Regions from separate parts of the Homo sapiens genome. Here all the other regions are reported to be linked to region 1. Evidence: microRNA targets listed by miRTarBase, many of them from high-throughput screens and not tested one by one. Region 1 holds a microRNA gene; each other region holds the end of a gene's coding sequence.
What was found. Region 1 holds the annotated microRNA hsa-miR-6893-5p (CAGGCAGGUGUAGGGUGGAGC, at 1,241-1,261, opposite strand). A microRNA usually pairs through its seed, bases 2 to 8, with sites in the 3' UTR of a target mRNA and lowers its output. Matches are read on the target gene's strand: a 7mer-m8 pairs with bases 2 to 8, a 7mer-A1 pairs with bases 2 to 7 and ends in A, and an 8mer does both.

Region 1 (3,148 bases):
CAGCCCCTTTTCAACAGCCCCAGGGGTCACCCACCAGACTTGCTGTAGAGCCCACTCGCACATGCCTGTGGGTCTAGCACTGTGAGGCCCTGGGGGCCGGGGTGGGTCTGCAGCACCCTGAGCTCCACCAGTCACTGCCAGATTCCACACCCCCCGGGACAAGCTTTCTGGGAAGCTTCCCCAGCAGCTCCCAGCCCATGCCAGGCCCTCCTCCTTGGGTTTGACTTTCCAGGCTTTCGGCTGCTTTTTGCCATCTCCCTGTCAGCAGATCATGGGGGCTGAGGGCTGTCCTCTCCCTTCCACCCACACATCCAAGTGCAGGACACAGCACCCACCAGGCTGGGGGAGGTGCACCCCAAAACACCCGAGGCCCAGGAATGAACCGGGCTGGTGGAGCCTGTGTGCCCAACCCCCTTGTACGACCTCACCCAGAAACTGCAGCTCTCCTGGCCCTCACCTTGCCCCAGGCTCTGGCAGGCCCTGCGGTAGCGGTCAGTCAACGGGGGCAGGTCCCACGAAGTCACCTCAGCCAACACCTGGAAGGCACCGTCATGAGCCACCTGGGGGCTCCCCCGGCTCACCTCATCATTGCTCTGCAGCCATGAGCCACCCGGGGGCTCCCGGTGCCTGAGGCCCTGGCTCCCCCTCCGCTCTGCGGCTCACCTCGTCATTGCTCTGCAGCACATCAGGGATGAGGTCCTGTGGGGCCAGCAGGGCCCCCTCTTTCCGTAGGGTGAGCCTGGGCAGCAGCCCGCAGGTCTGGTAGTAGCGCTGGGCCGCCTGCTCGGCCAGCCAGGCCACAGAGTGGGTGTCACTGCTGCAGGGACAGAGGCGCTGCTGCTGCTGCCTGCACACAGCCGGGGTAATGCCCCAGGGACCCGCCATCCCTGCCCAGGGCCAGAAGCCCCCTCAGCTGCTTCTCCCATTCCCAGGTAGCCGGCCCCTCCTCTCCCTGCAGCCCAGCACACCACCAGCCCCTCTGCTATTCCTGGGGGCCACAGGATCCTCCTGGAACACACCAGGGAGCCCTCGTCACACGCCCCACCCTGACATGCAAACACGAGCACCCTGGCATGGAGCTGCACAGGTGGGCTGCGGGGTAGGGCAGGCGATGCCTCACCTGTGTGGGACAGGGATGAGGAAGAGATGATCCTGAACTTGAACTCGAACCCGGATGGGAGGGGGCGGGGCCGGACCCTGGCAGGTGAAGGCAGCAGGGCTGAGTCAGGAGCCACAGTGGGCTCCACCCTACACCTGCCTGCCCGGAGTGGGGAGAGGGCTCTGCTCCAGGTCTGCATACCCACCAAGGGCTGGCCTGCCGCAGAGCTGTCCCCACTGGGCTCTGAGACCCTGGGGGTGCTGGGGCTCCCTGGAGGTTCTGAAGCCAGGCTGCTGGGCCCTGCGTTAACTGGCGCACTGCAACTCTGCATGCAGGTCAGGCGGACCTGCTTGGCTCGGGCACGGGGCCTGCTCTCCTCACTGTCCGACCCAGAGGTACTACTGGGCCTGCGGTTGTCTCCAGTGCCCCGGGGGCGGGGCCGGCGGCTGCGGGTCAGGGGCATGTCCAGCTCCAGCCAGTCCCCGGCCAGGCACTCCTCCTCCGGGATGAGCGCTGCCTGGGGGGCAAGGGCTTTGCTGTGGCCCCGCGGTGGGCCAGGCCCCAGCCGGCTCTGAGCACTGCCCACACCCCGGATGGCTGCCTGGTAGGCTGCCCGGCTGGTGCTGGCTGTGGCTGCTTCCCTGTTGCTGGCGGGGCCAGGCGTCCAGGCTGCCACCCGTTGTGCTGTGGCCGAGCACCGAGGCCTCTTCTGGGACGGCCGTGCGGGGCCTGCGCTGTCCTCGCCTTCTGAGCTGCTGCTGCTGCTGGCTGGCCCATGCCTGCTCCTCCGAGGCCTGGCCATGGCTGGTGCCGCCTGCCCTGGGGAGACCCTGACATGGGCCTGAGAGGCCTCTGGGAGTCTAGTGCTATTAGAGGGGGGTTCTGGGCAGGGGCTCAAAGGAGGAGAGGTCTCGGGGTCAAACAGAAGGCTGCTTGGGGTGTGGAAGGCCTGGGAGCTGTGGGGATCTGTGGGAGAGAGAATGCGTGTTGAGGCAGGGGCCCGGCACCTCCCGCTCCACCTGTGATGGAGCATCTCCCGAAATCAGGGCCCGGGGACTCTCAGCGTAGGCACAGCAACCCCAGGGACAAGGGACGCCCTGCTTGCCTTGGCCCGAGGCAGCCGCCTGGAGCAGCATCTCCATGGCCCTGGCCTTCTGCCGCGTCTCCAGGTCCAGGTCCCTGCGGTACAGCTTCACCCACTGCTGCAGCGTCTCCAGCGGGCTGAGGCCCTGTGTGGCATCAGTTGAGCAGGGGCACAGCAGCCCCCATAACCTCGCCCTTGCCCTCTGCCCCACCAGGCTCACCTTTCGAGTGCGGAGGGTGACGGACGCCCCCCGTTCAAGCAGCAGCTCAGCCACCTCGAAGTGGCCACAGTTGAGGGCATCGTGGAGGGGGGTGATGCCTTCGCAGCCCTGGCCACCTGGGTCGTCCACTGCGGCCCCGTGGTCCAGCAGGAAGCGGACAATTTCTGCAGACCAGGAGACGTAAGCCCAGCTCCCGATGCCCCGCCAGGACTGACTCTTCGCCCCACGTGTCCACCAAGGTGCGCCAGGCTCCTTCTGTCCCTTGCTCACCTAGATGCCCGTAGTTGCAGGCCTCGTGCAGAGGTGTCCAGCCACAGTAGTCCCGAGGGTTAAGGGGGTGGCCCTGTGACCAAGGACAGGAAGGAGCCTGGCCCTGTGTACCTCACAGCCTGGCCCCAGCCCCGTGAGCTCTGCAGCCTAAGCTGAGCCCAGGGCCTCAGTCTTAGAGCCCAGAGCAAGTCCGTGGCCCTGCCCTCTCCTCCTCCGGCCTAGGTGTCACCAGTGAAGGACATGCTTCCCCCTGAGACAGGTGGACCAGCCACAGCATATCCTCCGCCTCTGTGCCTGCCCGGTCCCCTTGTGGGGAGACAGTGCACCTGGTCGCAGGGGCATGAGGCAGGCGGGGCGGGAAGGTGCCCAGATCTCAGCCCATGGGCTAGCCCCCATCCTGGCCAGGCTGACCAACTTAGCTGTAACACAGATGCATACCACACAGCAGGTACCCCATTTTTTTTTTGAGACCAGC
Region 2 (3,000 bases), not on the chromosome of region 1:
GCTGCAGTCCTGTCCCCTCATGGCTGCCCTGGGTCGTGGGCGCCATCTCTCTCTTCCTCTACCATCACTAGGGGTGGATAGTACAGGGGTAGTGTTTTTGTGTTTTGCTTTGAGACAGGGACTCACTCTGTCGCCCAGGCTGGAGTGCAGTGGGGCAATCATGACTCACTGCAGTGATCCTCCCACCTCAGCCTCCCAAGTAGCTGGGATTACAGGCGCCCACCACCAGTCTGGCTAATTTTTGTATTTTTTGTAGAGACAGGGTTTCACCATGTTGCCCAGGCTGGTCTCGAACTCTTGGGCTCAAGTGATCTGTATACCTCAGCCTCCCAAAGTGTCGGGATTACAGGTGTGAGCCACTGTGCCCTGCCACAGGAAGTAGATTTTAACTCTCATCCTTCAACAGAGTGGAATGTTGGCTGTCCGTGAAAACCGCTACATTGTCCTGGCCAAGGACTTCGAGAAAGCATACAAGACTGTCATCAAGAAGGACGAGCAGGAGCATGAGTTTTACAAGTGACCCTTCCCTTCCCTCCACCACACCACTCAGGGGCTGGGGCTTCTCTCGCACCCCCAGCACCTCTGTCCCAAAACCTCATTCCCTTTTTTCTTTACCCAGGATTGGTTTCTTCAATAAATAGATAAGATCGAATCCATTTAATTTCTTCTTAGAAGTTTAACTCCTTTGGAGAATGTGGGCCTTGAATAGGATCCTCTGGGTCCCTCTTAATCTGACAGATGAGCAGACGAGGTGCATGGCCTGGGTTGCAGCTTGAGAGAACCAAAATATTCAAACCAGATGACTTCCAAAATGTGGGGAAAGGGATGGAAAATGAACCTGAGATGGAGTCCTTAATCACGGGATAAAGCCCTGTGCATCTCCCTCATTTCCTACAGGTAAAAGACAGTAAAGAAATTCAGGTCACAGGCCTTGGGAGTTCATAGGAAGGAGATGTCCAGTGCTGTCCAGTAGAACTTTGCACAATGATGGATATGTTCTGTGTTCTCCAGTATGGTAGCTGCTCGCCACATGTGGCTAATAAGTACCTGAAATATGGCTAGCATGACTGAGAAACTGAACTTTTTTTTTTTTTTTTTTTTTTTTTTTTTTTGAGATGGAGTCTTGCTCTGTCACCCAGGCTGGAGTGCAGTGGTGAGATCTTGGCTCACTGCAGCCTCTGCCTCCCAGGTTCAAGTGATTCTCCTGCCTCAGCCTCCCGAGTAGCTGGGACCACAGGCATCTGCCACCACACCCGGCTAAATTTTGTATTTCTAGTAGAGACAGGGTTTCACTATATTGGCTAGGCTGGTCTCGAACTCCTGACCTCAAATGATCTGCCTGCCTTGGCCTCCCTAAGTTGTTGGGATTACAGGCGTGAGCCACTGTGCCTGGTCAAGAAATGGAACTCTTACACACTGCTGGTGGGAATGTGAAATGGTAAGCCACTTCGGAAAACAGTTTGACAATTTCTTATGCTAAAAATACACCTATCAGATGATTTAGCCACTTCTAGGTATTTACTTAAGAAAAAATAAGGCATACATCCATATGAAGACTTGTAAATAAATGTTCTCATTATTTTTATTTGAAATAGCTAAAACTGGAAACAACCCAAATATCCATCAGCAAGTGAATGGATAAACAAATTGTAATATTTGTATGCAATATAACACCACTCAGTAATATGAAAATGAACTACTGATGTATGCAAAAACGTGAAATTCAAAATAATTATGCTGAGTGACAGAATCCAGACAACAAATAATACATAATGTATTATTCTATTTACATAAAGTTTTAGAAAATCCAAACTAATCTAAGTAACAAAGCATACCAATGGTATATGGGGCTTGGGGCAGGTGAGACGGATTATAGAGAAAAAAGTAGGAGGTGATAGACATGTTTAGTTTTTTTGCTTGTTTGTTTTTACTGTGGTAATGGTTTTTCAAGTGTGTATGTCAAAACTTATCAAATTGTACCTAATTTATTGTAGTTTTATTGATACCTCAATAAAATTAATAGTTACATACATAAATGTACTTGAAGTTCCACCTAGCACAATAAGGTAAGAAAAAAAATTAAGGCGTGGGACTGGAAAAGAAATGAAACTCTTCATTATTCACAAATGTCATGATTGCATATATGGAAAATCTAAGTCTACACAAAACCTATTAAAATTAAATAGTGAATTTAGCAATGTGGCTAAACAAAGGTCAATATAAAATATTAAATATAAGCCAGGCATGGTGACATGCATCCACAGTCCCAGCTACTCAGGAGGCTGAGGCAGGAGAATTGCTTGAGCCCGGGAGTTCAAGTCCAGCCTGGGCAACACAGCAAGACCCACTGTCTCTGAAAAAAAATCAAATACATATATCAGCAATAAATAAATAGGAAATTAAATTTTAAATTATAACATTTATCAAATAAATTCTTAAGTGCCAAGAATAAATTTAAAATATGAGATATAAATAGTTAAAATTACAGAATATTGACAGAAATCAAAGAAGACAAATAAATGTTGGGATACAACATGTTAATGTATTGGAAGATTACGAGTAAAAATATTAATTCTCCACAAATTGATCTATAAACAACGCAGCGCCAATCAGAATCCCAGCAGTTTTGTCCTGCTGGAAACTGACAAACTGATTCTGAAATATATAAGTAAATGAAAGGCTCAGAAATAGCCAAGAGAATATTTGAAGAAAAAAGCAAAGCTGGAAGACTTACAATACCAAATATCCAGACTGATGGTAAAGCTGTTGTAACTAATGTAGTGTGGTATGGCCTTACCAATGGACAAATCAATGGAACAAAATATGGAGTCCAAAAAGAAAATAATATACTCACTTGATTTCTGACAAAGTTAATCCTGTGGTACACTGGAGTATGAGTGATCTTTTATTAAATGTTGCCTTGTCAACTCTATGTAGATAAAATAAATCTGTGTTACCAGATGAAGAGTTTTTAATTGGGTTGTTCAGGTTATTGGCATG
Region 3 (3,000 bases), not on the chromosome of region 1:
GTATCCTTAGTAGAGACGGGGTTTCACCATGTTAGCCAGGATGGTCTCGGTCTCCTGACCTTGCGATCCGCCCGCCTCAGCCTCCCAAAATGCTGGGATTACAGGTGTGAGCCACCACGCCCGGCCGAGAATAGCTACATTTTTAAAAGATACTTAGCCTGGCCCTACCTCTAGGTGGAAATATCTGTGCCACCAACTGAGGAGCTGAGAATGGGGTGGGGCTAAGGCTTAAGGGTTTCACGACACTAAAAAAAATTGACGAAATGCTGGAAGGTTGGGTCATGAGGGCAGGAAGCAGAGGAGTTGGAGCCTGGTTTCTGGGCCATAAGTAAACTTTACAAACTTCAAAGCTCTCAGAGACCTCTAGGTAATAATCACGGCATCTTTAATTGGCAAACTCAGGGCCAAGATCTATCTGGCTGTCAGTCTGGGCTGAGAACTGGTGTTGCAAGCTGGGCTTTCCCCAGGCTGTGTTGAGGGTTAGGGGAGGGGACTGAGATGTACACTGGAAATTAAAACCTGGTACAAAGGTATCTCCTACTGCCAAGGTTCCTCTTCTCACCCCATGTGCCCCTGTGATAAAGTGACACACGAGTCAACCCGCCCCAGAAAAGCTGAGGGAGAGAGAGACCACGGTGGGATTGGATTGGAGATGAGGTTCGAATAAAGTCAGTTCATTACTTGACACCCGAACAGTGTCTTTTCTCCAAAACTTCTACCTCCTTTCAGGCTGATAAATCTGGTTCCTTCCTCCCTGGGTAGGCCAGACACAGGGCTGAGCTGGGTGACAGGTGAGGGCGCACAGGCCAGCAGAGGTCACAGGCCCTTGCTCTCCTTGGGCAGGTGTTGTCCTGACCAGAGGCAGGGCAGGGGCTGCCCGTGGCTGGACTCTGCCCACAAAGGAATTAGTGGTAGCTGGATAATGGAGTCGTGAAGTGCTGGAGGGATTCCGTGTAGAACTTGGGGATACAGATGGGTACGGTTGCCACTGGCTACAAATCTAACACCAGGTGTTCCTGGCCTAGCCCCCTCTGCCCATGATGGCACATACTTAAAGACAGCAAAGATGGTGCGTACCTAAAGACAGGAAAGATGCAAGGACTGTTTTGACACAGACATGGGTTCAAGAAATACTTCCCTTTCTTCTTTGCTGTACTTTAAGATAAACACCAAAAACACTAAAAGCAAGCCATGATGAATGGCTACTCATGCTTGGTCAGGAGCTGATGGGATGAGTGGCCGGACCACAGTAAGTTGGGAGTTCTGGCTCCGGCCCAACTCCCAACAACTGCGACTTTCTGAGAGCCTAGGTGAACTTGCGAAATCTTTGGATTTTTCAAGAGATGCCAGAAACCTGGATTTTGGTGCAAAATATCCCTTTAGATCTTCATCACTAATTCTTATCACTTAAAAACACTGCCTGGGCCCAAATCAATACAGCAACTGCAGGCGAGATCCAATACAGGGTCACTGGTTTTTTAGGTTGTGCAGCAAAAAGACAATGAAGGCCAGTGCAGTGGCTCCCCTGTAATCCCAGCACTTTGGGAGGCCAAGGTGGGCGAATTGCTTGAACCGAGGAGTTTGAGACCAGCCTGATCAACATAGTGGGAACCCCATCTCTGCAAAAAAATTTAAAAATTAGCCAGGCATAGTGTTGCCCACCTGTAGTCACAGCCATCTGAGAGGCTGGGGCAGGAGGATTCCTTGAGCCCAGCAGGTCTAGGCTGCAGTGAGCCCAGTTCACACCACTGCATTCCAGCCTGGGTGAGGAGCAAGATGCTGTCTTAATAAGTAAATAAATAAACAAAAAAAACAGACAATGGGTATTGTCTTGTGGGAAGGTCAAAGAATAAAAAAGAAAAGGCCAGGTGAGGTGGCTCACGCCTGTAATCCCAGCACTTTGGGAGGCAGAGGTGGGTGGATCACCTGAGGGCAGGAGTTCGAGACCAGCCTAGCCAACATGGTGAAACCCCATCTCTACTAAAAATACAAAAAGTTAGCCGGGCATAGTGGCAGGTGCCTGTAATTCCAGCTACTTGGGTGGCTGAGGCAGGAGAATCGCTTGACTCCAGGAGGTGGAAGTTGCAGTGAGTCGAGATCGCACCATTGCACTCCAGCCTGGGCAACAAGAGCAAAACTCCGTCTCAAAAAATTAAAAAAGTAAAAAGAAAAAGACAACAGAGAAAACAAGGTTCTTCTCTACCTCAATCCTCTTAGCATCTCTGGGAGGAGAAACAGCTTTTGCTTCCCTGTATGGAGGTCTGGGGGGTTCTCACCTCAGCCCTGCCTCAGCAAAGGGGGCCTTGGAGAGCCCAGGGCAGCGGGGAGCAAGGTGCTGGCAGAAGAGGCTGCTGAGAGCCCAAGATCAGACTGTCCGCACCCCAGGCCAGCTCTTGCGGTGGATTCTGGGACCTCCCTGCAGGCCGCTGCAGAGGTTCGGGCCCCTGAGCCCATCTCGGGCCGCCCACAATGTCTAGATGGTCACTTTTTAGGCCGTCACCCACATTCCTGGAATATCTCTGGATACAGCTGGAAGCCCACAGGCGGGTCCAGGTCCCCGCGGACAGGAGTCAGGGTCACAGACAGCCCCCCAGGGCGCCGGCCCCTACGCCCCTCGCCCCCGGGCCGATGGACCCATTGGTGCTTGGCCATGCCGGTCTTCAGGCCGAAGCAGCGGCCACACTGCGGGCAGCGGTAGGGCTTCTCGCCAGTGTGAACGCGCAGGTGAGAAGTCAGCGCCGTGCGGCGCATGAAGGCCCGACCACACTCGGGACAGCGGTGGGGCCGCTCCCCACGATGGATGGCCCGGTGTTTGCTCAGGGAGGAAGCGTGGCCGAAGCCCTTGCCGCAGTCTGCGCAGTGGAAGGGCTTCTCGCCCCTGTGGCTGTAAATGTGCTCCACCAGTGTGGAGCGCCAGGCGAAGCTCTTCCCGCACACGTAGCAGCCGTGACGCTGGTCAGCTCGGGGGACAGGGGGGTGGGCAAAAAAGCGGGGGCGACT
Region 4 (3,000 bases), not on the chromosome of region 1:
ACAATGGAGGGGGAGGAGTGGAAGATTTGGATTTTCATTTAATAAAGTCAATTGAAAATGAAAGTGCACCCCCCCTCCAAAAAAAGAAAATCATTTAGCAAGAGCAGTTTCATTCACAAGAATATAAAAACAGCCCTGTTCCAGGACTGCTGTAAAACGTGCTGCACAGCCTTAACCCCAAAGGAAAAGCAACCCTTTCCCACCCCGAAACAGCCTCTTCCTGCACATGCCCCTCCCCACCCCCTGAAATAGACGATAAGCAACCCCCATGCACCCTGCCCCCAGCACCAGAAGAGTCCTAAGATGGTCCCAGGCCAGCTCCTCAGTCTCCCTCTTCAGAGCGAGTAGGAGCTCCTTGCAGAAGACAGACCCCCACCTGACTTCCATCTGCAGCAATATGCCAGCACCCTGGGGAAAGCAGGTTCATGTATGAACCCTGCTAGAGTCCTTCAGATCTTTAGTCATCTTTTGTCAGGGACCATTTGGCTTCCTTGGGAAAGGGAAGGAGGAACGAAAGCTGCTGTGGTCTACCTTTCCTAACTCCCCCGGGCCTGAGCAAAAACGAACTGTAATGAATGAACGCACTCACTAGGTGAGCTGTCCACCGTGGTCTGGGGGTATGATATGGGCACTGAGAGGATGAGACGACAGGAAGAGGTGATGTGGGAATAGCACACATTGGAGAAGGTGAGGAACCAGGGACCCCATGGAAGGAAGGTCACATGAACATGCAAAACCCCAGAGCCTGCAGCAGGAGACGGGTGGGGAATAGCTGCCAGGGCGGGCATGCTAGACCACCTCTCAGAGCTCCTGGAAATGAGGTCCTGGGACATGGAGTCAGCACACGTTAGCAAGCACAAGAGGACTCTTCCCCTGTACAGGCAGCATTCGGTTAGGTGACTGCACCTGCCTTGGTTCACCTTGCCTACGCCCATGTTTCCTCCAAAAACCAACCTCAGGATAACCATTGTCCCCCTTCCATGGAAGACACAGAACCCCCTGCCCTGCTTGCATCCCAGAAGTGTGAGTAAGAGAGTATGAACTTGATGGCGGGACAGGACCATAGATGGACAGAAACACCCCAACTCTCAACCTTCTCACTCCAAAATAATAAGTTCTGGGGCCTGGGGGTGAGGGCAAAGTTTGTGCCCAGGGCCAGGAGAGGACAACAGTGCTCCCTTCCAGCAGAGGATGCAAGTGGTAGGACTCCTGACAGAGTGTGGGTAGGACACAGGCCTGGGAGCCGGAGCCTTGGAAGGGCGTGAGGAAAGAAGGAGATAGGGCAGTGAGCCTCTTAGGCCTCTCTCTCCTACCCGAACTCTGCCTGTGCCAAGGGCTGGGGAGGGGCTACCTGGGCAGTGGCAGGGCCAAGTGCTCTCCAACCCCACAGCACCGCTGCTTTGCTCCGCCCATCCTCTGCCTGTGCTCTCACGGTAGTGCTGGGGCGCATATGCTGCTCAGTCCCCACCAGCATGGATGCCAAGTGTGGGAGGGCAAGCTTGTGCCTCACCATACACCATCCTGGAAGGAAGAATCCGCTGATTTTCCTCTCTTCCTCTGGTAGGAGGCCTGGGGAGGCAGGGAGGACAGCTGTGAGGCTGTTTGGGAGTCCTGGGAGGAGCTGAAGAAGGGGCAGAAAGTGCCGAGTGCCCACCCTGGCCCTCAGCTGCAACCCTGCCTGGCTGAGGGAGTGACAGCACCGGACTCCTCCCTCCACTCCACTCAACCCTGAGTGCCCAAGAAGTTATAAAAATGTAGAAAAGGCAAAGAGAAAAGTGTAAACAGCTTCAGAGGACAGGGGTGAATAAGGGGAGACAGCCCTCATGCTCCCCCTGCTGTTGGCGACACCTGCATCCTGCGTTGGTGTATCCAAGATGGGTGTCCCCACACCCTCCTCAGGCTCCCGGAGCAGGGATGGAAGAAAGCTGAAAGGGAAGCAAGAGCTGGAGCAGCCAGCCCTGGCTGGGTCTTTTCCCAGATCCTTAGGATCTTCCTTTTAGCCATGGGATATTAAAGATCCCAGAGCAAGGGGCTGTGTTTGTTCTTAGTCTCCTCAGTGACTCTCTTGTCTCCGGGCAGGCCTTGATAGAAAGAACCACATCCGTGCCCCCTGTAGATCTCAGCTGCCACATCCACCTCCTCCTCGACTCCTGATCTCAGAAGCCAAATGACCTGCTGAGGCAGCCTCTCCACCCTCCCCATGGACGTGCCCTTCAGGCAGCCTCCCCTGCGCCTGTCCAGCCATGTCCAACAGCCCCTGAGGTCTGTTCTCTCAGTAGGGATGAGCTGGGGCCACAGCCAGAGAAAACAGAGTTGGGAAAAGCAAGAGTGAAATGGAGAAAGGAGGCATTCAGACAGCAGAGTTACAGCTCCTGGAAGACGAAATCGGGGCGTGAAGAACTGAGATCCAGTCTTGAGCACAGCTGCGCTGCCCCCGTCCTCAGGGTGCACACACTGGAGGCTTTGTCGGCACAGACCCAGAAGCCCACAGCCCAGGTCCTTCTCCACAGCCACACCAAGCTCACGGCCATCTAGTTGCCCAGGTCTCAGTTCCCAGGCCTGTGGGTTTCTAGAGTGTAAGCCTGGATAAAATCCCATCCTGGTCCTCCATTTCCAGGAGAGGACTGGAAGCTCCTGGGTTCCCCAATGTTGTCTGCCCAGTTTCAGCTGTACTGCTGGGGGGAGGGAGGGTATGGGTCACAGCCATGGCCCTCAGGTGGGAGTGGAAGGCAGGGCATTGGGGGAGGAAACTAGTTGTTGGCCTCGCCTTCCTCCTCATCAAAGGACTGCACACCTGAGGATGTGACGTCAGACACCTTCCGGCTGAGAGCGGTAGACATCTCAGGGTCTTCTCGTGGGGAAAGTGACTCCAGGTCCCGGCATCCCGCATCCTCTTCCTCCTCAGGTGCCAATGGCCTCTTCTCCTCCTCAGCAGGGCCCCTTGCCAGGTCCACTGCGCCTACCCCCGGAGCCCAGTCAGTGTCTCCCCCCAGCAAAGGT

Region 2: the mRNA of PSMC4 is a reported target of hsa-miR-6893-5p. The part of its 3' UTR that is shown has no 7-base or 8-base seed match.
Region 3: miRTarBase lists ZNF747 as a target of hsa-miR-6893-5p. Seed matches in the 3' UTR shown: 7mer-m8 at 2,048-2,054 and 7mer-m8 at 860-866.
Region 4: miRTarBase lists FAM131B as a target of hsa-miR-6893-5p. Seed matches in the 3' UTR shown: 7mer-m8 at 2,728-2,734 and 7mer-m8 at 1,576-1,582.

The regions. Positions count from the first base shown.
Region 1 is chr8:144,434,354-144,437,501 of GRCh38, forward strand. MIR6893 (microRNA 6893) reads right to left here and starts at 1,266; the gene lies at 1,198-1,266. TONSL (tonsoku like, DNA repair protein) reads right to left here. Exons shown (of 26, transcript NM_013432.5): 14 at 2,674-2,746; 15 at 2,404-2,567; 16 at 2,205-2,328; 17 at 1,305-2,065; 18 at 1,121-1,197; 19 at 664-817; 20 at 458-536. It overlaps TONSL-AS1 (TONSL antisense RNA 1), which reads left to right and starts at 815. Exons shown (of 6, transcript NR_109770.1): 1 at 815-1,087; 2 at 2,398-2,642.
Region 2 is chr19:39,980,786-39,983,785 of GRCh38, forward strand. PSMC4 (proteasome 26S subunit, ATPase 4) reads left to right here. Exons shown (of 11, transcript NM_006503.4): 11 at 407-979. The coding sequence ends at 520. Among named protein-coding and RNA genes, the nearest start is that of PSMC4, 11 kb to the left of the region's middle.
Region 3 is chr16:30,530,003-30,533,002 of GRCh38, forward strand. It overlaps ZNF747 (zinc finger protein 747), which reads right to left. Exons shown (of 3, transcript NM_001305018.2): 3 at 365-3,000. The coding sequence ends at 2,497. It also overlaps a transcript of ZNF768 not described here. Among named protein-coding and RNA genes, the nearest start is that of ZNF747, 3.4 kb to the right of the region's middle.
Region 4 is chr7:143,353,800-143,356,799 of GRCh38, forward strand. FAM131B (family with sequence similarity 131 member B) reads right to left here. Exons shown (of 7, transcript NM_001031690.3): 7 at 1-3,000. The coding sequence ends at 2,751. Among named protein-coding and RNA genes, the nearest start is that of FAM131B-AS1, 6.4 kb to the right of the region's middle.